4 separate regions of the Homo sapiens genome follow, and all the other regions are linked to region 4. The links come from fine-mapping of genetic effects on gene expression. A gene starts in region 4. Each other region holds a variant in brackets. All regions are shown on one strand. Distances are between the middles of the regions.

What was found. PIP is the estimated chance that this variant, and not a neighbour inherited with it, causes the effect. A credible set is the group of variants that fine-mapping cannot tell apart.
Region 1: its variant is the best candidate, but not a certain one, in a credible set for the expression of ELMO1 in aorta (GTEx, PIP 0.57).
Region 2: its variant is the best candidate, but not a certain one, in a credible set for the expression of ELMO1 in liver (GTEx, PIP 0.68).
Region 3: its variant is the best candidate, but not a certain one, in a credible set for the expression of ELMO1 in whole blood (TOPMed, PIP 0.52).

Annotation. Positions count from the first base shown.
Region 1 is chr7:37,355,516-37,363,267 of GRCh38, forward strand. All of the region lies in intron 1 of ELMO1 (engulfment and cell motility 1), which reads right to left. Among named protein-coding and RNA genes, the nearest start is that of ELMO1, 89 kb to the right of the region's middle. RefSeq lists an enhancer at 1-59. The variant G/A (reference allele first, on the strand shown) is at 3,398.
Region 2 is chr7:37,400,642-37,408,393 of GRCh38, forward strand. All of the region lies in intron 1 of ELMO1 (engulfment and cell motility 1), which reads right to left. Among named protein-coding and RNA genes, the nearest start is that of ELMO1, 44 kb to the right of the region's middle. The variant C/T (reference allele first, on the strand shown) is at 3,882.
Region 3 is chr7:36,981,664-36,989,415 of GRCh38, forward strand. All of the region lies in intron 16 of ELMO1 (engulfment and cell motility 1), which reads right to left. Among named protein-coding and RNA genes, the nearest start is that of ELMO1-AS1, 12 kb to the right of the region's middle. RefSeq lists a silencer at 4,981-5,275. The variant G/A (reference allele first, on the strand shown) is at 3,290.
Region 4 is chr7:37,447,103-37,451,102 of GRCh38, forward strand. It overlaps ELMO1 (engulfment and cell motility 1), which reads right to left and starts at 1,762. Exons shown (of 22, transcript NM_014800.11): 1 at 1,573-1,762. RefSeq lists silencers at 1,402-1,451, 1,462-1,511.

The DNA.
Region 1 (7,752 bases), 90 kb before region 4:
TTCAGGGAGTTTTTAGATTTGAAGTTTTGAGGGCATAGAAAAGATTCTAGGTGAACGATTGTGTTGACAGAAATCGGAGGGGGGAAAGTTAGGGTAAGATTCTGGAAGGATTGACCTACATTTGCAAAGGCAGGAAGTCACAGAGAATTGCCTGAGCAGATGCCCTGATGGAAAATAAGAGAACCATTTTCCCTCCTGACCACAGGTCTAGTCCTCCAGGAAAGTTCTCTGAGAACACAAAGGTGACCAGGACTCAACTTGTTCTAAATCCTTTCTCCGCAAGGAGAAATGGATGTCATCTTGAGTTATGAGGTGGCTGAGTGCTTTAAGAAGGCTCACAGGGGAGCTTCTGCACAGAGGGGGATCTGCCCCACTATTACTGCACATCTTCACCAACTGTATGTTCTTCCAGCCTTGCAGAGTGACATCTGTCCTTTTCTGTCTGATCCTCCCAGCAACTAGACAGAGGGTAGTGTTAGGGCTTAGAAAACAATCAATACCCCAAAGTATGGAGCTTTGGCATGCTGAGTACTCTGAACTAAAGAAGACTGGAAGGTCTCAGAACCAAGGTCTCTCTGACCTCTACTGCTCTCCTTTCTCCCATCTCTCTTTCCCCACTGAAGCAACTCATAAAAAACAAAATTCCATGGTGTCTATGTGCCACATTTTCTTTATCTAGTCTATCATTGATGGGCATTTGGGTTGGTACCAAGTCTTTGTTATTGTGAACAGTGCTACAATAAACATACACGTGCATGTGTCTTTATAGTAGATTGATTTATAGTCCTTTGGGTATATACTCAGTAATGGGATCGCTGGGTCAAATGATATTTCTGGCTCCAGATCCTTGACGAATCACCATACTGTCTTCCACAGTGGTTGAACTAATTTACACTCCCACCAACAGTGTAAAAGCATTCCTATTTCTCCAAAGAATGAGTTCATGTCCTTTACAGGGACATGGATGAAGCTGGAAACCATTATTCTCAGCAAACTAACACAGGAACAGAAAACCAAACACCCCATGTTCTCACTCATAAGTGGGAGTTGAACAATGAGAACACATGGACACAGGGAGGGGAACATCACACACCGGGGCCCGTGTGATAGGGGAGGGATGGAATTACGAGAAATACCTAATATAGATGACAGGTTGATGGGAGCAGCAAACCACCATGGCATGTGTATACCTGTGTAACAAACCTGCACATTCTGCACATGTATCCCAGAACTTAAAGTATAATTAAAAAAAAAAAAGAAAAGAAAAATGATCAATGGATAGGAAGACAAATTCACAAAATCCTTTAAGCATTTCTTAATAAAAGCATAATAAATAAATAAAAAAATCCTCTTCCACAAAGTGGGTCATAGAAACTAGAACCTATCTCCACCAAAGTAAACCATGAAACCTAGGAAGGTCACTCTCTTCCTTCTTCCTTCTCCCCAAAGACCCTCTTTCCAGAGGAGTCCTGCCCTATATCCAGGAGGAAGACATGCTACACAGACAGACCAATAAGAATCTGAACCAACAGCCCTTGCTGAGGTTCCTCCTCAGTCATACTGCCATTAGGTCACACCCTTTGTCCAATCATAGTTCTATATGGCTGTCCATTCTTTATCAAGCCTAAACATAAGAATAGTTATGGGGCTTTGGGTCTTTGTTTCTGGGGCTTTGGGTCTTCATTTCTGGGGCTTTTGGTCTTCGTTTCTAAAGGCTCCCATGTTATATAAAACTTATATTAAATAAATGTGTTATGCTTTTCGCTTGCTAACCTGTCTTTGGTTTCAGGAGTGTCAACAGTGGCCCATATGATGGTTGAACACAGGTATCACACCCTTCCCTGCTATAGTAGGCATAATCCACCTGGGGCCTAATGAGCTTTGCTGGCGAGACCTCAGCCCAGCTGCCCCCCAGAAGCTGTGGTTTTAGTGGAGACTAAGACATAATGATTACTCAGCTTCATTCCTAGGGTTGTCTTATCATGGCTCTAAACAGCAGAACCTCAGAATGTTTCTCAGGAAAGATGCAGTTAAAAAACAAATTTCCCCCATTTTCAGTGCTGTAGATATTTTATCTCTCTAGTTATTAGCCACAAACCTACCCTCACTAGTAAGACAAACAAACCTATAGATTTTTTCCTTCTCATCTCTTTCACTTTAGGAGGCTCTGCCAAAACTCCCTGGATTTTATGATAAAATCTCTTCCTTCTAGTTTTTATCTGAGCTGCCTCACATGTTTGCTGCAGTTTGGTTTAAGATAAAACACAGTCAGGGTACATGCTATCAGCATGGCCATACGGCCATACTGTGAGAGCTTTTCACACAAACATCAAGATGACAGTGGAGCCAGTGGGCCATGCTTAAGAACAAAAAGACTTGTTCCTGCTCAAATGCATAGATAAATAAGATCTGAGGTGCTGAATGGCAGTCTGTGGTGCATATTTGGGGGGAAAGTGGTCTGTGGTTCTATTCTGAAAGCCAATATTATTGATTACATCCTAGGGTTGCTGATCTGCTCACTGGTATCCCAGGGCATTCTGAATGAATTGTTTTTTTAATGCTCATTTTCCCCTCAAGTTAGCATGGGCAGAGAGCTTCCCCACAGCCTGTCTGTACTCCCTGGGAAATTACCAGATTAAAAGCTGGTAAGAGGAAAATAGAGAAACTTCCAACCCTGTGTTGGCAGTTTGCTAATTTCATACTTCTGAAAATTTACTTTGATTTCTCCTCTAGCCTCCATTAACAGTATACTGATAATTTCAAATGCTTTGTATCTGCATTCAGTTCTAGCAAACTTGAAACTCAACCTGCTAATAATATCCACTTTGACAAGGACTCTATTGTGCCAAAACCAAACTAATGACAATAAAAACAAGTACACAAATACAGACACACAAATCCCTAGCTAGACTGATGAAGGCAATTGTGAAAAAAATTAGAGAAGGCCATCTTGCATCTTATTGCCCAGAAAAATACCAGATATTATAAACCCATCTGGAACACTTGAGTTCTGCTGACAGGTCTGGTAATGGGTACAGATTCTGGGGCCTAGTTATCTGAGGTGTGAATTTGATGAGAAAGGTCAAAGAAAACCAGATTCCACTGGACACCTAAAAAATCTTACTTTTCTCAGCCTTTCAAATCTTACTTTTCTCGGCCTTGATTTGAAACTCCTACAAACTTTATAGAGGAAATATGGGGAAAAAAAAGAGAACAGGCTTTGGAGGCAGACAGACCTGGACTGGAATGTAAAAGCAGGTAATGTGTTAAGCCCGGGCACAAGCTGACCAGATTTGCATTTTACCTTTGCCTACATGAAGAACAGACTGGCATGGGGCAAGGATGACGGGGTAGGTTGGTAAGAAAGTGACTGATGGCAGTGACTTGGGCTGGAGTG[G/A]TCGTGGAGACAGAAAAGGTGATGGATTTATAAGCTATTTAAAAAATCAAAACAATTGATAATAGACAAACAGGGAGAAGCTGGAGTCATTGACGAACCAGGATTATGGCTTCTATAACAGAATAGGTGGTGATGTCATTTACTGAGATAGGACTACTCCAAATAGAAGATGGACTCTCTGCCAATTTGTTGACCTGTATCAAGGCAATGGGTGTAGAGACTCATCTGGAGGAACCAGTGGTAAAGTCCAAGCCGTCAGTGCCAAATACAGCCTTCCTACTCCTTCCTTGCAGGACTATCTGCTTTACTGCAGATTACATCTAAAAATGCACAGCCATTTTCTCCTAATAAGCAGGAAGGCAGCAGAATACAGCAGTTAACAACCACTGATTGGACTCTGACTGTCTGTATTCTAATCCTAGTTTCACTACCTCCTAGCCTTGTGGCTTTGGGAAAATTCCTCTCTGTGCCTCAGTTTACTCATCTGTAAAATGGAGCAAACCACAGTACCTATGTCAACAATTTCTTAGGATGAGTACTAAAATGACAGTAATAGCCAACACACCTATATAACTTACCCTGTGCCAGGTACCCTATTAAAGAGTGTACATAGATTAACACATTCAGTCCTCACAACAGCCCCGTGACAAAGGCGCTATCATAATCCCCACCCTAAACATGGGTAGATGGAGTCACTGAGGAAACTGGTCACTTATTTGGCTAGTCAGCAATCTAGCCCATCCGAAGGCAGTGTTCTGAACCATTACCCTAAACTTCCTTGGACCTTAATATGCACAAGGCTTAGAACAGTGCCCGGCACCGAGTAAGAGCGTGGCACATTATCCCTGACTCTGAAAGCCAAATCCAGGCTGGTTCACAGGGAAGAAAAAGGCTTTATGCACTTTTCCATTATTGATCACGGTCACACCTTTTCACTTTGTACTTGTGTAATACTGACTGCGACACGGTGAACTTGCTTCTGACTTTGAGTCTGTGGACAGGAATCAGTTATGGCCTGAGATTTTCAAGCTCCACAGAGACTCCATTTTTGATGCTGTGATAGAAGCTGCAACTTGATACTACCTCTGAGAGTCAGCTCTGCGGAAAAATACCCCTGGCTCGGATCATAATTTCCGTTCTGGTAAAACGGGGATCTTTTCATGACCTCTAAGCTTTTACCTTTTCACTTCATGAATGGATAAACTTTGTGTGAGTTGAATATACTCTCCCTCCCCTTAGAGAAAGAACAGAGAGATTCTTTTATAAGCAGATAAGGTGATTTTATTTCCACTAACAAGGAATAATCTTAATTGACATCTTGCTCTGTCAGAGTACAGCCTCAGAACAAGTACTCAAAACTGAAAGAATCACTTTTTGGTAACAGGCCCCAGCATTTAATGAGCTTATTATGGCAAAGAACCTAAATAGCAAATCAATTCACTTAGGTGCAAGAGAGTTCACTGGGAAGTAACACGGCTTAAAATGAAAGTTTATGAAACTTAACTGAAATTTTAAAAAAAAAAAAAAACACCAAGGTCGACATTTCAAACATCTACATAAAGTTTTTCCAGGTAAAAATTAGCTCAGCCACACACTTAAAAGACAAAACTCTAGGGGTCCAACAGATGCATAACTTTTTAGAGAAAAATCCAGAATCTGCCTGTGGGTAGTCCTCGGTATACCCAGGAAGAGCTAAAGTGGCTGCCTATTCAGAGGTGAGATTAAATTAGGCTTCTCACATTTCAAAGATTTCAACCCAATACTCAGCCCAACTGAGTAGTAAGGCCTGTGTGGTTTTCAGTAACTGCAAAGTGTAAAGAGAAATTGCGCTCTGCCCCCTTATCAGTAAGTCTAACACTGAATTAACTGCCATCTACAAAGGTGGTGTCTACATTGTTCTCAGGAAAATTTTATAAAAACCTTAAGATTAAAGAATAGAAAATAGTTTAATAATATATGGCAAAACTATGAGAATAAGAGTCATGTAAAAAATTCACATTAAAATATGAGTGACACTGGACAATATTCACAACATTTTCAATGATTCATTTACATCCATTGACATTTGAATATTAATAAGTATTTACTTCAGTACACACTCATTATGATGATAAAAACTTAGAACAACTAGAATTCTCACACATTGCTGATAAATAGTAAGACTTTGAAAAACAGTTTGGTACATTTTTAAAAATATTAAGTACATATTTATCATATGACACAGCAATTCTACTCTTAGGGATTTACCTAAGAGAAATGAAAACAAAGATAGGTGTATGAATGTTCATAACAACTTTATTCATAAAAGCCAAAAGCTCAAAACAACTCAAATGTCCATCAATCGATGAATAAACAAAACGTCATCCATACAATGGAAGACTACTCAGCAATAAAAAAGAATAAACTGCTGATACATGTAACAATAGAAGTAAATCCGGAGTGAATTATGCTGCATCAGATATTGGCACACTCTAGCTTATGGGCCAAATCCGGCCCTCTCCCTATTTTTGTAGTCAAAGTTTTATTGGAACAAAGCTACACCCATTCAGTACACATTTCATACTACCAACAGCAGAGCTGAGTAGGTAGATCCTACAAAGACCATCCCGCCTGTAAGCCTAAAATATTTACCATCTGAGTCTTTACAGAAAATGTATACCAATCTCTACGCTAAATAAAAGAAGTCAGTTATAAAAGACAACATACTATATGATTCCATTTCTAGAAAATTCTAGAAAAGGCAAAATTACATTGATAGCATGTCATCCGGGCACAGTGGCTCAAGCCCGTAATCCCAGCACTTTGGGAGGCCAAGGCCGGCGGATGGCTTGAGCTCAGGAGTTCGAGACCAGCCTGGGCAACACAGGGAAACCCTGTTTCTATAAAAAAGACAAAAAAATTAACCAGGCGTGGTAGCACGCACCTGTAAGTCCCACCTACTTGGGAGGCTGAGGTGGAAGGATCTCTTGAGCCCAGGAGGTGGAGGTTGCAGTGAGCAGAGGTTGCACCACCACACTCCAGCCTGGGAGACAGAGACCCAGTCACACACACAAAAAGAAAGCCTATCAGGGGTTACCAGGGGTGAGGTGGAAGCAGAGTCTGCAAGGGGGCACAAGGGAACTTTTCAGGGTGATGAAACTGGTCTATTTCTCTTATACGAGGTAGCATGAAGAAAATAAAAAATAAAATAAAGCTGTAAAATGGTCTGTTTCTTGACTGTGTTGTGATGGTTACATGACTACATACATTGGTCAGTATCACTAAATGAAAATTGATTTTATTGTACCTCAATAGAAATGTATATGATATATATATATATATAATTTCTCCGTTACATCCTTGTGCCAGGTATTACCAGGTACTACCTCCCACCAGGTATGCTTCTAGGTATTGAGCACAAGACATTGAACACAAAACACAAAGTTTCTGCTCAGATGGTACAGTTATAATATGACAGGGCCACCCACTGTCCCCCAGTGGACATCTGGCATGGGTAAGCCTGTGATAAGCCACTAGCACTTTTAAGATTGCTTGGACCCACGACAGAGTTTAGCCTAGACTAACTAATACAGGGCTCATTTCTGAGTCCTTGTCTTTCTCCAGGCATCGCCTCTAGGTAGTCTCATCCAATCCCATAGATACATTTTAAATGTATATCCTGAACCCAAGCCAACCAACCTTCCTTCATTCCTTCCTTCCTTCTTCCCTCCCTCCCTCAAATAGCCAACTGCCTACTTGACATAGCTACTTAGGTATCTCACAAGCATCTCAAATTTAACATATCAAAAACTGAACTCTTTCCTCCAGAAGCTATTTTTCCTTCAGATTCCTCACATTAGAAAATGGCTTTGTGGTACACCTTTACACCAGATTTCCTGCTTCCCCTCTTCTGAGCACTCTAGGGGACTGCACTTCTAGCCCCCTTGCAGGATAAGGCCACAGCCATACATATGACTCTTGTGGCTAAAGACATGTGAGTGGAAGTGACAGAGGCACTGGAGAGCCAGGTTCTCTCTTCCCTTGCCACAGTGAATTTGGTAGAACGTGTACTGATATGGAAGGCAGACTAAACCATTGAGTTTGAGGACAGCTGCCCTGGAGGGTCACTTGGACTTAGAGCAGATTTTGCAAGACAGCAAACTCTGTTGCAGTAACCTGAAATGTTGAAGATGCTGTTGTCAGAGCATGAACTAGCCTCCTCTGATGACTTCGGGGCCCTCTGACAACTTCAGGGCCCTCTGATGACTTCAGGTGCTTGTGCCAGACCAAGGAGTCCTTCACAGTCCTTCTCCCTCCCCTCCATGTCCAGGCCACCACCAATCCAACTCAACCCTCACAAACATTCCCTAGGCCAA
Region 2 (7,752 bases), 45 kb before region 4:
TCACCCCTTTCAGTTACTCCAGAATATTTGATAAATTCCATTTAGAGATACCAGGAAAGATCAAAACTTCTACTTTTTAGGAATAACACTTAGACTGATGGCCATCTTCTTATCTCCCCGCTCCAGACCATCAACTTGACAAGGAAGAGCTAGGATTTAAACTGCTTTTTAAATGGCAAAGAAATTCCTTTTTCTTTAGGACAGAAGAAAAAACAATTTTCTTCCAACCTGTGCACAATATGGGTATTTGGTACAGTTTTCAAGGCAAAAAATCCTAGGGATTTTGCAAAGGACTTAGGACAAGACTAATAGCCTTGTCTCATCTTGGTCCAAAAGTTTGACTCTTAGAATTGAAAGAGACATCCGCCTGACTGAATGCTTTCACCCTTAATTTTATCTGCAGAAGTTTAATTCAAAGGAAAACCCCTAGGAACCCTACACTGGGAGGAAGCTTAAGTAAGTGAAGGTAAGCTTGTCCAGGAAGAAGTGGGAAGCCAGAGCCCTGCCCTCTCAAATCCCATTCACTCTCCCTGCAGAGATGCCTACACTCATGTCAGAAATATGGGGCTCCATAAAACACAGTTTGAAAGTGATGGAATAATTCAGCCCTCATGCACAGATAAAATAAGGACATTGAAGGGATGGGTTCAGGACCTACCACCCCAAAACATGGCACCTTGGCATTTGAGAAAACAGCAGAAGCAGGAAGGTCACTCTTACCTTCCCCTCACCCCTTTTCTCCTAAAGCAGATCATAAAATCGAGGAAGGATTTTCTGACTTTTCTTTGAAGCACTTTGTAAGAGCCTCAGGAGACAGTGTATTAGTCTGTTCTCACACTGCTATAACGACATACCCAAGACTGGGTAATTTATAAAGGAAACAAGTTTAATTGACTTACAGTTCAGCATGGCTAAGGAGGCCTCAGGAAACTTATAATCATGGCAGAAGGGGAAGCAAACACATCCTTCTTCACAAGGCGGCATGAAGGAGAAGAATTCAGGCAAAAGCAGGGGAGAATCCCTTAAAAAACCATCAGATCTTGTGAGAATACACTCACTATCACGAGAACAGCATGAGGGTAACTGCCACCATGATTCAATTACCTCCTAGTAGGTCCCTCGCATGACATGTGGGGATTATAGGAACTACAATTCAAGATGAGATTTGGGTGGGCACACAGTCAAGCCATATGAGAGAGACTCCTTCCCTATACCCAAAGGAAAGGAGTTGAAGACATAGAAGTGAGAAGAAGAACCTGATCAAACAGGCCTTGCTAAATTTCTCACAGTTCATTACAATTAGATCACAGATAGCTCCTTTGTCCAATCATACATCTCTAAGACTGTCTACTCTTCACCAAACCTAAGCATAAAAATACACAGGTTTACCCGCTTCTTCAGGTCTTTCGTTCCCTATGAAGACTCCTGTGGCACGTAAAACTTACATCAAATACATGTGTATCCTTTTCTATTGTCAATCTGTCTTTTGTTATAGGGGCCTCAGTCATGAACCTGTTGATGAGTGGGAAGAAGCTATTTCCCCTCCCCTACAGCAACAAAAAGTTACAAGTGGCTCCAGCAATATTCTGCTTGATAAATGGATGAGGCCAGGTTGTGAGTGAGAATATCGTTACAGGAAGAAACCATGAGCAGAAATTAGAGAGACTCTAAATTACTGTTTCCTGGCCTCTATGCAGCTAGAGTGACGACAGAACCCATTTGGGGTCAGTAAAACATCAGAGAAAATCTGCTGGGTTTTTCGTGGGGTAAAGGGGTGTTCACTTTTCTGAAAAAAGGAACAAAATGGAAGGATAGCTCTTGGTGTTTCCCCTTCCTCTTTCTTCCTAAGTGTTTGGGAACTTGATGCCTGGTGCTACAGCCGCCATCTTAAGACCATGAAGTATGAGCAGAAGACAGAAAGCCAACATACTTATGGAAGAGTAGAGGGAGAGAGAGTCTGGATCCTTGAGGACAGTCTTGAGCTATTTAATGAATCTGAAGCCATCTGATCCCTGACTTCTGGTTAAGTAAACAATTAATATCCTTATACTAAAGGACACTGTTAGTCTGTATCTCACCCAGTAGAACACACTTCTCTGGATATTTCAGAATCAGGGTATTACACCTTAAAAGTAGTACCTGCATTTTTCCACATATTATCTTTAATTTCTGTTCCCAAACTACAGTCACATGGAAAATAAAAAAGCAAGGGGGAATGATGTAACCACCTTTGAAGATAGTTTGGTACCTTCTTACAGAGTTAAACGTAATCTTGTCATACAATCTGGCAATAATGCTTCTAGGTATTTACCCAAACAAGTTGAAAATGTATGTCCATACAAAAACCTGCACTCAAATGTTTAGAGCATTCTTCTTCCTATTTACCAAAACCTGCAAGCAACCGTGATGTCCTTCCATAGACGAATGAATAAACTGTAGTATAGATACACAATAGAATATTACTCAGCAATTTTTAAAATGAGCTATTAGGCCACAAAAAGACATGGATAAGTTTTAAATGCACATTTCTAAGTGAAGGAAGCCAGTCTGAAAAGCCTAAATACCTGTATGATTCCAATTATATAACATTCTAGAAAAGGCAAAACTATAAAGACAGTCAACAGTTCAGTGGTTTGCCTGGCACAGTGGCTCACACCTGTAATCCCAACACTTTGAGAGGGTGAGGTAGGAGGATCACTGGAAGCCAAGGTTTGAGACCAGCCTGGGCAACACAGTGAAATCCCCCCAACTCTGAAAAAAAATCACTGGTTTCCAGGGGTTTGGAGGCCAGGAGGACGGTAGGGGGGTGCATAGGTGAAGCATCGTGGATTTTTAAGGCAGTGAAATTATTCTGTATGATATTGTAACAGTAGCTACATGACACGGTGCAACTGTCTTTCTCATTTATTTATTTATCTTTAAGACAGGGGTCTCACTCTGTCACCCAGGCTGGAGTGCAGTGACATGATCACAGCTCACTGCAGCCTTGACCTCCTGGCCTCAAGCAATCCTCACACCTCAACCTCCAGAGTAGCTCGGACTACAGGCACACATCACCACACCCAACTATTTTTTTTATTCTTTGTAGAGATGGGGGTCTCACTATGTTTCCCAGGCTGGTCTCGAACTCCGGGCCTCAAGTGATCCTCTCACCTCAGCCTCCCAAAGTGCTGGGATTACGGGCATGAGCCACCATGCCCAGCCCATTATGCAATTGTCAAAACCCATAGAACATACGACACAAAAAGTGAATCTTAATGAACTGTTGTTGTTCATTCATAATAATGGATACTAGTTTAATTATAACAAATGTACCACACTAATGCAAGATGCTGATAATAGGGAAAACTGTGTGGATAGCAGGCATATATTGGAACTCACTGTGCTATCTAGTCAATTTTTCAGTAAATCTAATACTTCTAAAAAATAAAATATATTAATGGGGAAAAAAAGCAAGAGAAAATGAGGGGTGGGAAACAGAATCCCTAAAATTGTAATCATTTTTTCTCTCTAATCAGTCCAGAAAGAAATTCATTTTAAGGTATGCATGGGAAGGTTTGGGCCAGCACTTTCCATCCTCACTGGTCCACTCCCTCTCCCATACCACCAAGACCCATCTCTGAATGTCTAGGTGGCTCCCCCTTCCACCTTCACTCCGTGTGGCAGGCCTCTCCCATGCACACTGCATGCTGTCTCATACAGGTGACTGTGCGCCATGATTTCTATGGGTATCTTATGCTCTTTCTCATTTGGTCCTATCATGGCCACTCCCCGCCATTGGCACAGCTTTCTGGTGCATCCCTAGGTCCCACGCTATTTTTAACCTTTGATATTGACATATCTGACAAACAATGTATCCTTTAGATGCTTCTCCATGTTAA[C/T]GGAAGTAACAACCTGGTATATAATAAATTCCCTGGGCCCTTCAGGTTGTTCCAATAAAGGTTCTCCTATAACCAAGACACTGTTTAAAGAAACACACCCCATCTGCGAGGCCCAGATGCCAATCAGTGTTGAGATGTTCCTCCTCTTTGTGGCAATGTAGCAAGGTTTGCAAACTTAGCATAAAAAGGAGATACTACACCCCAGTACCAAAAGTTTCCTGGATCTTTTTTTCCATAGTTTTCTTTGGGGCTTGGAAGGCTGGCTTAAATTTTTAGTTCTAAATAGATTGTGGTCGCAACTGGGTAATCGTTACTTGATGAAAAACAAAATATCCAGTTTTTAAAAAACATTCAGCTATTGCTTGGCTCACATCCTTTCCCCTCTTTGTTCCCCCCATTTTTAATTTTTTTCTGAATAAAATGCAAACAGCTCATGATCAGGAGTCCTCATTGTAACTATGGGCTCTGAAATTTGCCAGAATAAGGCGTTTGCTGAGCAATCATTTCCAGGAGAGAAGTCACTGTGGCCAGACCAATGAAGCAGTGGTAATGTGGGCCACCGGCACTGGGGGACTGAAATGGTCGTGTGAGAAAGCATAACTTTGAGTGACAATGGGATTTTATCTGAATGAATCTTTCCCAAGAATAAGGCATGGATGCTTTTTATACTTCAAGACCAAAACAACAACAATGGGGAAAAAAAACCCTAAGAATTCCTCCAAAAAGGTCAGGCTTTATTGCAGGTCCCAGCCCTTGCACATATTGTTCCCTCCTCCTGGAATGCCCAATGTTTCCGACCCCCTCCCCACGCCCCAGACTCCACCTTGTCTCACCTCTGCCCCCATGTCTGTCTGTCACACCCAGAGCTTGCTTATCTGCAGTTATTCTTCCAAATCACGGAGAAACACAAAATCCAGATAGGTCTTTTAAGTACAGCAAACACACTTCCGTGTGCTTTAACTGACACAAATATGTGTGATGAAATGAAATGCACAGAATCGCAAATGTTATCCTTATAGGCAATGTGTTCCTTCATTTCACATTTTAGGCAATCACAAAGCAATTAAACTTCTGTGTGCACGGGACACTGAAGTCATGTGTGGCATGCTTCCTGGGACTCAAGGCGTCGGGCTTGTTAATGGGAAGGAGGGAGTCAGAAAGATAGGCTTATTCATTCCCTGGCAGTTAAAATACAGACTGGCTGAATCAGCCCAGCCAATCCTCCTCCGATACTCCAAAGGCTTTCCAGGGGAAACCAGAGTGTCTTGAACTTGCTAGCCTCAGAGGACAGTGCATATGCTGTCCCGCCCCAGAGGTCAACTCCGCTGGTCCCAACAGCTAGCCTCTGGAAAGTTGGCCTCAAGAGAGCTGACCACGAGAGCATGGGTCAGAATTCACTGGAGAACCCATCCTAATATGGAAAATGTCAACACTTGCTTCCCTTATCAGTAATTCCCAGTCCACCGCAGCTACAGGCAGAATCAGAAGTCAAGCTCAAGCTGCAGAGCTGAGATACCACTGGGATCTAGGGGTATTTTCAAGCCGTTAAGCAGACCTCATCTCCCACTCCTTGCATCTTAGGGTTCATTCCATCATTCATGGGAATGCTTGAGTACTCACGCTGGTTCAGGCCCTGTGTATAATTAGTTTGGGAAACAGAAGCTTCTTGTTAGTGAAAATAAAGATGGTACAAGTGAAAAATCTGCAGTTGGTGCAAGGGAGAAATCTGCAATATTACTCTTTTGTTTTTTTTTTTTCTCTCTTTGTATATATTCCACCCTCATGGCAAATATGAAAGATTTCCATTGGATGAGACACTGAACTCAGTAGCCACAACAATGAGGGGCATAATGCAATGAAACTAAAAACATATTCTTAGGAAAGAAAAATGAAAGTGAGGAAGTAAGAAAATTTTTTTTTTTTATGAGACAGAGTCTTGCTCTGTCACCCAGGCTAGAGTGCAGTGGCGCGATCTCGGCTCACTGCAAGCTCCGCCTCCCGGGTTCACACCATTGTCCTGTCTCAGCCTCCCAAGCAGCTGGGACTACAGGCAGCTACCATCACGCCCGGATAATTTTTTTGTATTTTTTTTTTTAGTAGAGACGGGGGAGGGGTTTCACCGTGTTAGGCAGGATGGTCTCGAACTCCTGACCTTGTGATCTGCCCGCCTCGGCCTCCCAAAGTGCTGGGATTACAGGCGGGAGCCATCGCACCAGGCCAAGAAAATATTCTTAGTCTTGTTTTTTGCATCTTTAAAATATAGCATTAGCTAGAGGATCTCAAAGGTCCTTCCAAGATTAAAATGGTATGACTCACTAATAATCAGGAAATATAAATTAATATAACAGTAAGATAGATACCCACATTCACTCTTCAGATAGGCAAAGATGAAAGAATTCATCAGTATTAACTGTCAGTAAGAATTTGTAGTAAACAGAATCACATACACTGCTGAATTGGAGGGTAAATTAATATAGCCTGTGTGGAGAACACTTTGGTAATTTATAATAGCGTTGAAAAAACTTACAGCTATACAAAATCTGCACGCATGTTTACAGTAGCCTAACATATACTTGACAAAACTCAGAAGCAACTAAGATGTCCTTCAACAGGTGAGTGAATAAACAATGGTACATCCACACAATGACACAGTATTGGGAGATAAAAAGAAATGAACTATCATGCCATGAAAGAACATGGATGAGGGTCTGGCGCGGTGGCTCACGTCTGTAATCCTAGCACTTTGGGAGGCCGAGGTGGGCAGATCACGAGGTCAGGAGTTCAAGACCAGCCCGTCCAACATGCTGAAACCCCGTCTCTACTAAAAATACAAAAATTAGCCAGGCGTGATGGTGGGTGCCTGTAATCCCAGCTACACAGGAGGCTGAGGCAGGAGAATCACTTGAAACCAGAAGGCGGAGGTTGCAGTGAGCTGAGACTGCACCACTGCATTCCAGCCTGGGCGAAAGAGTGAAACTCCATCTCAAAAAAAAAAAAAAAAGAACATGGATGAATCTTAAGTGCTATTTCTAAGTGAAGGAAGCCAGCCTAAAAAGGCCACAGACTGATTCCAACTATATGTCATTCTGGAAAAGGCAAAACTATAGAGACAATAAAAACATCGGTAGTTGCCAGCAATATGCAGTGAGAGAGGGATGCATTTGTGGACTGCAGGGGATTTTTAGGACAGTAAAATTCTTTTGTATGACAGAATAATGGTGGATAAACGGCATTATGCATTCGTTCAATCTCATAGAACTGTAAAAAACAAAAAGTAAACCCTAAGGCAAACTATGAACTTCAATGAATAATAATGTATCAATATTGGCTCATTGCTTGTAACAAATGTTAATAAGAGGGAAGCCCTGCTGGGGAAAGAGAGGATATGGAAACTGTACTTTGTGCCCAATTTTTCTGTAAACCTAAAATTTCTCTTAGAAAAAAATTGATTAATTTTTAAAATATTTATTAATTTTAAAAATAGTAACTTCAAAAAATTGTGTCAAGTCTGTAAGTGAATTTTACATTGGTAAAGAACATTGAATACCACAATAAACATATACAGTAGCATTGGATTTTATATCCACACTATATTTGTAACCTTGTGTTCCCCATACTAAAGAAATAGCTATCATGCAGCAAGGGTTCAATAAAATAATGCTTGTGAAACTGCTCTGAAAGCAATAGAAAGCCTGGCAGAGGTTTAATTCTAATCACAACCGGTTACACAATAGATATACATAATGAAGTTGAAACCCCCAGGAAGAATCTGGGCAGTCTGGCTACCTGATTGTGCATCACTGTCTAAGACACATTGGAAAAAAGATGACAAAGAACTCAGATAAGCCCCTACGCTCTGTCTTTCCAATGC
Region 3 (7,752 bases), 460 kb before region 4:
GGGCCAAGATAAGTAAGGATGAAGAAAGAAATGCCACAGATGGATGAGTGCCGACTTTCTGCAAGAGGAAACAGCATACTGTTTTAATTCCCCCTTGCCAAACAGTGTAATGGAGAAACTAAGATTTAGCTGTCCATCTTGAGTTCACCATGAGCAACGGTGAAAGTAAAAGTTAACATGTTTGTGAATACTAACATTCTGTTTCTCTGTTACCAGAGCAGGTGGTCCAGGTACCTTGTGGAGGTAAAAGAGATAAAGGTGCTGTGGTATGATGATGGAGTGAGAGAAGTTACTGGCCTAGTGTGCAAGGAATGTTCTGAGATCCTAGTGCCACACCATCCAGTAGAGTAGCCACTAAACACGGTGGCTAGGGAAGCCTTGGTGAGTGAGTGTGGTGAGTGTGACTGTGCAGCTGAATTGTAAATTTTATTTAATTTTAGCTCATTTAAATTTAAAAACCAATACTCAATTCAGTTATTTATTGGAAAACTTTGATGTATGTTTGGAACAACTTGTGCACATGAATCTACTTTTTTAACTATGAATTTTATGAGATCTAAATACAGATTTCCTGTGAAAATCCAGTATCCAAATTGAGTTGTGTTGTAAATGTAAAACACATGTCATATTTCAAAGACTTAACATGAAAAATTCAATGTAAATATTTTGTTAATAGTTTTGTAGATACATGTTGAAATAATAACTTAGACATAGCAGGTAAAATAATACATATCATTAAAATTAACTGGCCTGTTTCTTTTTACTTTTTTCAGGTGAACTACTAGAAAAATTAAAATCACATACTTAACTTGCATCATATTTCCATTGGACAGCATCAATGTAAAATGAGATCTGCTATATTGTCCCTGTAGTACATTTTTTGTAGTCTTGTTAAAATGTCTTCTACACATTTACATACCTCGTATAATACTAGAAAGTGCATAATACTAGGCAAGCATAGCCAAGAACCCATGTTTAAAAACCTGTTACCATGACCCCTACAGATTCCTTTCCACTTAGCATTGCAATCTTGCTTATTTTTTTATGTCAGATAAGACATCTAGATAAGATGAATAGCTTTTATTCTTCCTTCTAGCAGCCTAACCCCTTCTTTCTCTTTTTTATTGTTACATCTTCATTGTGAATCCATTTATAAAACAGATAGAAGGGGAGATGCAGTGGCTGAACCAGGAGTGGAGGATTCACACACCCATCCAGCTCCACATTGCCCTAGCAGCCATCAATCCTCCCTCAAACTCTGACGAACACAGTTTCTATTTCTGAGCTGGGCCCGCCTCCCCTGCTCACAAGGTCTTGAGAAAGCATGGTAGTCCTGGTGATTCCTACAGCCATTGCAGTTCATGGGAACCCCCAAACTGGCTGCCTGGTTGTTCCTAGTTGTTCATCACCCTCGCCATTGCTTTGGCCACTGCAAATCATTCCTGGCAAATGTAAGCAAAGGGCAGCCATGGGACACTGGTGACCTGTCACCTCTCCCAGATGGCCCAGAAGGAACTGGTCTCCTAGGTAAATTGACCCAAATCATACCAGGCAAATAAATGCTACAGGAATGAGATGGTGCATCACACAGTAACATAAAGGGGCAACCAATGGGGCATTTTGTGATGGGCTTTTTACTTAGCTCAAACTTCCCAAATGGCGTTATTAATAATTCACCCAACCACCCCAAAATGCCTTTTCAATTTGACTTTAATTATTGTGGTGATTGTTTAATTCAACTACCTGTGGTCTGACTCCACTTGACAGACTGACAGGCTGATGAAACCATCTTCCCCTATATACTCACTCTCCTTCCACATATGAATGCAGCAACAAGTACATCGACATGCATGAAACACCAAACACTTGTCAGTTCCTAGCTGGATAAACACCGGCAAGGTCCTTAATATTTTGGCGACTAAATTTCCTCATCTAAAACAGGCAAAAAAACTTAGTCCCATTAGGGCTGCTGGAAGATTCAATGAATTATTATATCTACATATAAAATGTATTGAGCAGTGCCTGGCACACAGTAAATGCTCAGGACAGATTGAGATGGGGCTGCAGCATTTAGCGGACCCATCTGAAAAGAAGGAGACAATGAACTTCAGGGTATGATACGTTCTTGGCTATTCCCCCAGGACAGGGATCTTGCTTTACCCTAAAATGCCTGATTATCAAAGTGTTATGTGTTTGTGCATGAATGCGTTTTTAGGTGGGGGGAGCAGAGAGGAGGTTCATAGCTTTCACATTCTTAAAGAGTTCCATGATCCAATAATAGCTTAAGAACTACTGTTTTAGATTTTTTTTTTTTTTTTGTAAACATTTTTTACTGCTTCCATAAAAAGCTGGTTTCTTCTCTCATTCTTACCAACAGGTGCCAGCACTTCGCTCATGTAAAGTGACACTAGTGGGGGAGAGAAGAGGCCAAGGCGAAATGGACATTGACTCTAACGAGCTGACTGTCACTTAATGCACATCCTCTAGAAACCAGACTTCCTCAAAATCGAGCATCGAGGTGTACTGAGGAGTGTGGTGCAGCAGGCAGAGTTAACATGCACACAAGCTCTTCCAGTCAGGCAGAATTCTCAATGTATCCAGCCATCTGGAGCCTCATGGGATCAGAGAGCAGCCTACATCTCCAGAAAGGCATTCAGCTAACAAACAGGTCACTGACCTTGTCAAGTGACCAGGTGTCCCTGATGCATTGTCACCCGCAGTTAGGAAATTCTCCCTCTCCTGCAACGTCAGCCCTACTTCTTTAATAGACAGAGTAGAAGGTCTCTCCCAGACACCCAGTCGCCCTCACCCTGCCTTGAGTCTTCTATAGGCGAAAGCTTTCTAGCTCTTCTGTTTCTGTAACCATTCATCACAGGTCCCATTTAGGATAAAGTAAATTCTATTCTAGAGCCACGTGAAGACCCACAGCATTCTCCTGTGCAAAAGGACATTTTTTAAAAAGGACAACCAATAAGATTTCTCTTGTTTGACTATTTCATGTGCATTTCTTCATAAACCAGATGCTTCATTCTCTTTTCCTCTCTCCATTATTTGAAGTCAAGTGGACTGTAAATAGAAGACATCAAGTGTGCTATGACACTTTCAGGCACATAAGACAGGAAATCACATTTTAAAAAAAGTAACATGATGAATCCTCAAAATCAGGAGACAATCAGGGGAAAAGATCTTAGGCAGAGATAGAAGCCCCAACTTCAGCCCCCACTCTCTGCAACCCAAGCCAATGGCATTACCTTTCCTCTCCCCGTTCAGAATGATTATAACTCGTCTG[G/A]AATCCTGCTCGGTGCTTGGGTTGCATCTTGCCACATACATTTTTAAGTTTGCAGCTAGAAGGGTCCCTACAGGCAAAGAGTTTCTCGTTCCCCACGCTGCCCCTCCATTGCCTGTTTATAGTACTGCTTTCTTGTTCTTCCTGTTTCTACCCAACGAAATTGAAAATTTCATCACCAGTGTCAGAAAATTAAACCCCAGGGAGCAGAGCAATAGCTCAGAGCATCCCTTTCCTGGCAGAGAGCCAATCCTTGAATATAACTTTGCAAACCCTCTCTGGTTTTTCAGGGGTTTGAAAGGATGCAAAATAGAGTCATTTTGAAGCATGCTTTTTGACTGCTAAAATCTTTCCAATTGCACTTCACTTTATCTTTGCAATTAATTAAAAAACATATTTCAATTTGGAGACAGGTTTCATAAAAGGAAAGGACATGACCTAGCTCAGTTACACATTTTCCAAGCAGAGAACAGTGGCACACGGAGAAGAGATGCTTCATTCCGTGGCTGGGGGTCTGAAGAAGTGTTTGACAGACCATTGTAATAACATCTCTCTTCACAATGCAAACACCAGCAACACAATCAAGCGGCTCCGGGCTCCGTGCCTGCACCTTTTTCTCTCTTCCTAGCAATACACAGGGTTGACTCTTATTATTAATGTAGCTTTAAAAGCATTTTCTCTTGAAATGCATCAACACCCAGGGAAATAAAGCAGAACTCTGCTCCTTACACTAATCCTAACAAGACAACCAATGTCCAAGTATAATGTACAGTCAGCTACAAATCGGATCAGACCCAAGCAAAGCATGCAGTCTTTTGAATTCAGAGTCTCCTACATCATGGGAACCCTTGAATGCCCGCTCCTCCATGTGCTTGTTCCAATTCAGTTTTCTCGGCAGACAATAGGACAAAGCTACATTTAGCTCAGGCTGATAATACCGGTGGACACATGTGTGAGACGGAGGTTTACTCACCAAGCTCCCGTAAGTCCATCTTTCCCAACCACAAATACTGATTCTAAGCTGCTGCCACCACAAAGCGACTTAGAGTCGTCCCCCTGAAGAACAATGTGCTGGAATACCACCAGATGGTTCCTGAGTAAGCTTGTTCATGAAACAGGTTTCCAGTTGAGCCATGTGAACAGAGACCCGCCGCACACCTTTAAATGGTATACACTCCAAGTCCAGAAGAATAAGCATGTAGCTTTGCTTATGTTTATGGAGCTGGAGCCCAGGGATGCTCCGATTGGCAGGAGTCGGGGAAAGATCAGCCAATCAAAGGGCGCCTCCATTTCAGGGAAACTCCTGCTCATTTATTTAGCATCTTCAGAGATCATCGGCTTTTCCAGGAAGAGCTTTTCTCTTAGAGTATCACAAGAGAAAAATAATAACTTCGTTTCTATTTTAGTGTCCTATGCTCTTTTGTCAATAAACCCATAGCTCCCCGTCTTGGTACTTCTCAATATATCCCCCACTTTTTCTTATAAAGAACTAAAAAACAAATAAGGACAAGAAGAAAAAGAAAAAGCTGGTGATGGGCTGGAGATAGTTCATATTCATCAGCCTCCACCTTGTTGGGAGAAGTGGGGGAGTGCCTGGGCTCAATAATTACCGATTCTGTTGCCATAGAAACAGACTGGCTGCAGCGAGTTGGATTCGTGCAGAACATCTGCTGCCAGACCCATAATCAACTGCAATCTCATCTCTTCCCCTCTCTCTACTTTTATTTGATTGTGAGTTTGCTTTCTCCTACCTTCTCTTCACACACAGTTTTTGTCCAGAAATGTCATAGAACCACCTCGCGATACCTTGCCATGTACACACAAGGCATGCACACCAGGGGTGCTCACATACTCAGGAATGCAAGCATTCCAGAGCATCCCAGCAGGGGTCCCACTGGGAGGATTTATACTCTAATTCCTACCCAGGATGTAAACAAACATAAACAGCCTCTACCCCTAATTAAAATTACTGCAACTTTTAACCTAGAGAATTAGAGGGGTATCTTTAAAAATATTTGTTGCCTAACAGCCCTGAGAGCTCCGCAAATAAAAGTTAAAGTTTGCAATGGTATTCCTCAGAGGGCACTGCGGTGGTTCCTAGCCAACCTTTGGAATGAAGCGATTACACTGGCGGCTTGTGGAAGATTTTGTAAGTACGGAGTGTTCAGGCCCAGCTCTTTTCTGCATTAGCACCTCATCAAGGCGCCCTGAACACTAGGGATCTCCCTGGATTTCCTCAGCCCATTTTCATCCCCTCAGACTCCTCCCCTGCTTGCTCCAAATTCCCCGGGTTGCATGACTAGAATTAATGTCACCAACTCTGAATGTGCTGCCATCTCTCTCCTTAGCAGCAGGGGTCGCCACTGAGCAGTGAATGGCTGCACATCCTGGTCAGACTCGAGGGGGCTCATAAGGTGGCAATCTCACTCAGGGGTCTGCGGAAGCCCTCAGTTCCACAGAGATTGATGGAAAATGGTAAGTGTCACAGAAGGCACCGATTTGGGCTTATGTTAGAGAGAAAAGAATTACTCTCTGCCCTATCGTCATCTGCCTTGGCATCATAACAACCTCAAGGAGAACCTTCTCTTCCTTAAAGGTCTCTGCAAGCCTGGGACCCTCAGCCCGTAATGACCCAGATGAGGCTTCTGAGGAGACTGGGACCTGCTCTTTGTGTGTTTCTGATTCTTGAAGCCAAGCTGAACTATCCATCTACAACACATCCACTGTCTAAACAGCAACAGTCGCCCTCAGCCTCCTTTCTTCCTAAATGAAGCTCAGTATAAACCCCATATCCATCCAACTCCAAATGCTCAGCTATAGCCCACTGGTGTTTTGTTTTGTTTTGACAGTCTTGCTGGAGTGCAATGGTGTGATCTCGGCTCACTGCAACCTCTTCCTCCCAGGTTCAAGCGATTCTCCTGCCTCAGCCTCCTGAGTAGCTGAGATTACAGGCATGTGCCATCATGCCTGGCTAATTTTTGTATATTTATTAAAGATGGGGTTTCACCATGTTGGACAGGCTGGTCTCAAACTCCTGACCTCAGGTGATCCATCCACCTTGGCCTCCCAAAGTGCTGGGATTACAGGCGGGAGCCACGACGCCTGGCCGCCCATTGGTCTTGATGTTGGATTTGTACCTTCAAGAATATGAATCCTGGCTTTCCATTTTGTCTCTTTATGCCACTAAGTGTAGGAAGAAAGTCTCACCCAGGTACAGCACCCAAAGCCAACACTGTCAATCTTTCTCAGCTCTGCCCAGACAACATTCACCCTCAGGGTGGTGGATGGCTCAGGTTTTCTCTACCATCTTTCTGGAACATCTCCTCTTAACTGTCCTGCCTAGTCTCCTCTGCCATGGGGACACCCACCCTTTGCCTTCCCATCCTCTTGAAGGCTGTCCAAATCCTCAGTTTATGCCAAAACCATCATTCCATCCAAGTCTTCCTCAATCAAAATTTAATAATTTTCTCAACAAATATTTAGCAAGTATCTATGCCAGGCACTTGTGCTAGTGATACAACAAACTGACAAGGTTTCTGCCTTACAACCTGCAGACTCTAATAGAGGAGGCAAAAATATTAAGCATAACTGTGATATGGAGTATAAAAACAGAGCTATGAACTCTGTGTTCTCTTAGCACAAATAATCACTTAGTGAGATCAGGAAAAGCATTTCAGAGAAAGTGACATCAAGCCATGATCTAAAGGAAGAGTAAAAGTTAATAAATTGAGAGTGAGGGGAAGAGTGACCCAAACAAAACACATGTGTGCTAGGAGGCAACATGGCATCTTTGAAAATCTGAAAGAAGCCAAATGTGAATGGATCACAGTGAGAATGACTGGGAGGATGGTGTAAGACCAGACCAGCAGATGCTTAGAGACCAAGTTAAGGAGTCTGGTTCTTATCCTACAAGCAATGACAATGCATTGCAGTGCTCCAGTTAAATGACTCCTTGCCCATCCTAACACACCAACATAACCCAAGATATATATTCCTCAGCTGATATGAATGACAGATTAACAGAATACAAACCTGATTGAAACAATCTATTTCAAGACATCTGTGATTTGTTGGGTTGATCTAGCTAACATTTATTGAGCAATTAATAATCCAGGAATTAATCCAGCAATTAAGAATTAATTCAGCAATTAATAATTCAGGAATTAACCTAGCAGTTCATAATCCAGTGCATTCTAAGCACTTTGTCTAGATTAACCAATTTAATTCTCCCAAAAGCTCTGTGAGATGTTATTACACTATTTACACAAATGAGGAAATTGAGGCATAAGGAGGTTAAGCAACTTGACTGAAATAACAACAACAACAAAAAAGTAGCAGAGCCAGGATTTGAATCAAGGGATTCAAGCTCTAGATTCTTTAAGTGTGATCCACAAGGATCACCTACATTAGAAATTCTCATTAAATGCAGATTCCTGGGGTCCAAGTGCATCTCTCCCCAATCAGAA
Region 4 (4,000 bases):
CCAATAATAGCTGCTGCCGGTTTTTGCAATCTCAAAGTGATTCTGAGAAGGATTATATCCCTCTATGTCCCAAAGTTGCTCGCAGGGTTTTGGTGTGTAAATACAGGTCATTAATTACTTTTATAGAAGCAAAAGAGAAACACTCAGATATTCTTCCATAGCTTCATCCCCAAGTCACTGGCAGCGCCCAACAGGAAGCCTCCGCTTCTGGAGGCCTCAACCCGTCTTAGATTATCTGAAATCTTAACCATAACGAATTAGGCCCGAATCATTCAAGGCCAGCGGTGTTGGGAAGCCCATGATCCAGCGCGGGGGGCATCCCAAATATATTCACTGAGTCTCGGGAGCCGTCCAGGGACTCTCAGAGCTGGGTCACTACCTGGGACCAAGCCTGAGGCTGGTCCTTTAGGTCAAGGCAGGTCCCGACCCGCCTCCAACTTCAAATGGCCCCCTAGGCGGGAGAGGGTCACTGGGCGGGGAGTTCCTGGCTGTGCGGTCACACACACACACACCGACTCACACACACACCCACAACACCCCCCCCACACACACACACTCACACACACACCGACGACACACCACACACACATACATACGCGCGCGCGCACACACCACACACACACACACACACACACACACACACACACGCCGCCTCGCGCGCGCTCGCGGCACAGCACCGACTTCCCAACCCCAAACACACGCGCGCACCCCCGGGACAGCTGAGTTCTGTATTTCCTCTTCCTCAAAGCGACTCCGGCGATCGCAGTCGCCACTCTCCGCTCCGATTCCCGGGCCCCCTGGCATGCCGCCGCCCCCTTCTCTGAAGGCGCGCCCGGTGCGTCCCCTCTCCGAAGCCGAGATTTCCACGAAGCTCCACAAAGCTCCCCGCCGCCTCTCTCGGTCTCGGCGGAGACCCCGGTGTGTCCCCGGGAGGAGAGTATTTACTAACCAGAACCTCAGGGGCTCCCGGCTGCCCAGACCGCCCTCTCCGGCCCTCCTGGCCCCCATTCCTCTGGCCCATCACCGCCCCCTCCCACGAGCGCGCTCGCCGGGGGATTCCCTCCCATCCCCGAGTGCAGGAGAAGACGCCGAGTCTGAGCCGCAGCCGCTTCTCTAGCTCTATAGGAATCTTGACTCCAAGATCCCAGCCCCACATCCCCCGTCCCCAGTAACCCCGCGCCAGCGTCGCAACCCTCCCGCGCCCCCCCTCCCGCAGACCCTGGTCGAAATGTCTCGGCGGGCTCCCGGGCCCCGGGCCCTGCGCTTCATCCGCGGGCGCCGCACCTCCAGCGCCCCCTCCCTCCGCTCCCACTCCCACTCCCGCCATCCCCGGAGCTCAGACTTCCCCAACTGCAGAGCGCCCCGACGCGCCCGCAGCCCTCACCCTGCCGAGCGCGGCGGCCACCCCCGCCCGAGCCGCGGCGCCCCCAGGGAGGAAACAAAAGTGTCTCCGCGGCGCCCGGAGTCCCCCGGAGCAGGACGCCTCCTCCCGGCCCCAGTCCCGGCCCCCTCCCCTGCCGCGCCGAGGTCAGCGAGTCGGGGCGCGGCGCCAGCCCAGGAAACTTTACGAACCTGCTTGGGGTCGCAGGACAGCAGCGGCAAGGGTTCCCGGCGATCAGAGCTCCGGCGACCCGCCACCATTGAAGGGGAACTGGAGGCTCTGTCGCCCAGCGTGGGGCCGCGGCGGCGTGGGTGGCTCTGCCTCTATCCTGTGCCCATCCTCGCCCGCTCCCGCTCGCCCCAGCACACGCACTTACACTCTGGGTCGGCCGGCTGCTGCACCGCCGGCTGCCGCTGCTCTCACTTCCTCTTCCTTCCTCCTGCTGGCCAGAGACACATTTTGCATCTGCAAGGCATCCGGAGATCAGCCGCGAACTCTCCTCCCGAGCGGACGCTGCGGAGTTGCAGCCGCCGCCCCCGGCACCTGCGCCAGGACACTCGTGGTCTGCGCGTTCGCCTTGCGCCCGCACCCTGCCTGGTCCCTGCCCACTGCACTTTGCCTAGGGGGATGCCCACGACTTTTTGAAGTCCCCCTACTTAAAAGACAGAAATGTCAAACACCATGCATGCCTCAGATCTGCTATAAATAATATGTGTGCAGAGCATGACTTCGATGAGCTCACACACGGCGTTTGGAGGCACTAATTAACTCCGTCACCCTCATAGCGCCATCTCCGGGAGGCCAAAAGCGAGTAGCATCTTTTCACATCCTTTTTTAATTTTTGGCAACCGGTTCCGGATATTAAGGGGAAACTTCGGTGGGCTGTTTGAACGCTACTTTAAGACGTGTTTGTTTTGACGCTGTGCCTCTACCCTTGGACAGAGTGGCAAAAAAAAAAAAAAAAAGTTTCCTCCCTCTCCGTCGACATCTATGTATTTACTAACCCTGCAATTGAAACTACAAGATGTATTTCTAACCAATTAAGCCAGGGACTTCCTAATTTTGCATAACTTTGCATAAGGCAAGACGTTCCACCCATAATTTGATATTTAGAATAAATTACTTAATTCATGCAACCTACTTAAATCATTTTCAAAGCAGAAATCAAAAACGTTAACTCCCAGCCTAGCTGGCAGGAGGGAAGAGGGTTGCAGGCGAACCACCTGTCCTCCCCCAGTTCAGAAATACCTACATTGGCTCTACCGGAAAAGTCAAAGGCAGTTCGGCATTTTCTTCTAATTGGCAAAGGAAATAAGTCGGGGGCAGGGAGGCATCAGAATCAAGGTGGAAAACTAAGCTCCCTTTTAAGATCTTCCCCCTCAAGAGCCACAGGCAGCTGTTGAGCACTTGAAATGTGGCTATCCCTGAGATGTTCTGTAAGTGTAAAACAGACATACAATTCAGTATTTTTAAAATGAATGTAAACTAACTTGTTAAGTATGTTTATGTTGATTACATTATTGCAATACATGAGAATAGTCTGATGTAGTAAGTCAGTTGGATTCGTCATGTGTTGGGTTAAGATATAAGCATATATAAGATTAATTTCACCAGTTTCTTTTTACATTTTCTGATGTAGCTACTAGAAAATGTAAGGCTACACATAGGCTCTCATTAGTGGCTCACCTTATACTTTTAATGAACAGCTCTGATCTAACTCCTTATTATACGCATGACTCTGGGAGGCAGTATTAGTATCAAGAGTGCCTGGGTCCAGATGGTTATAAGCCAGTAACTAAAGCAGGGTGACTGCAGGAAAGCAACTTAACTTCTGTATTTCCTCATCTATAAAACAGTAATGATATAATAACAAAAGTCAATAGCACCAACTATTAAATGAAGTAATTTAATAAGTAGTCAGTAAATGGAGCCTTTACTAACGATGCTCTGAGACACTTGTAGTGATAAGTATGAATTTGATCTACAACCTTGTAGCTAAGGCATATAAAGACCTTAACTTTAGTGCATGCGTGGTGAGCACTCAGTAAACATTAGCTGTCATAATTGTTCCCTCCTTGCACAGCAATTATGCAAATCCACTCCCCTGTAACCTTTGGTCCCGGGTCTTCACATCTTTCCTCCATGAAGTAGTCTTTCAGATCTTTGAAGTCAGCCCTCAAATTTTACCTAAACACTCTCTTTTGAGGATTAACCATCCTCAATTATTCTGACTCTTCTTCATGTGACATGGCTTCAAGTCTCTCTCATTTGAGCCATCTTCTCCCAGAAGAATATCTGTCTCTGCCCTTTAAAAAAAAAAAAGAAAAAAGAAAAAAAGAAAAAAAAGTAGTCTTATAGATTAATTACGTAATTAACCATTAGCAAACACAATACAGCCTGAGATCTTCTCTCTCTCTCTCTTTTTTTTTTTTTCTCAAATACATCTCAGTGTTGATAGGAGTGCAAGGGGAAGACTGGAAATTCTTTACAGTGTTACGGTTAGGCCATGTGCGGGAACATGGAGTTGATCTTTGGAACCAAAGTTCCTGATCCACTTTCTCTAAGTCCCTTAGGATTTAATTCAGGCATCCAGTGTCTCCCCATATCCATGGATTACAT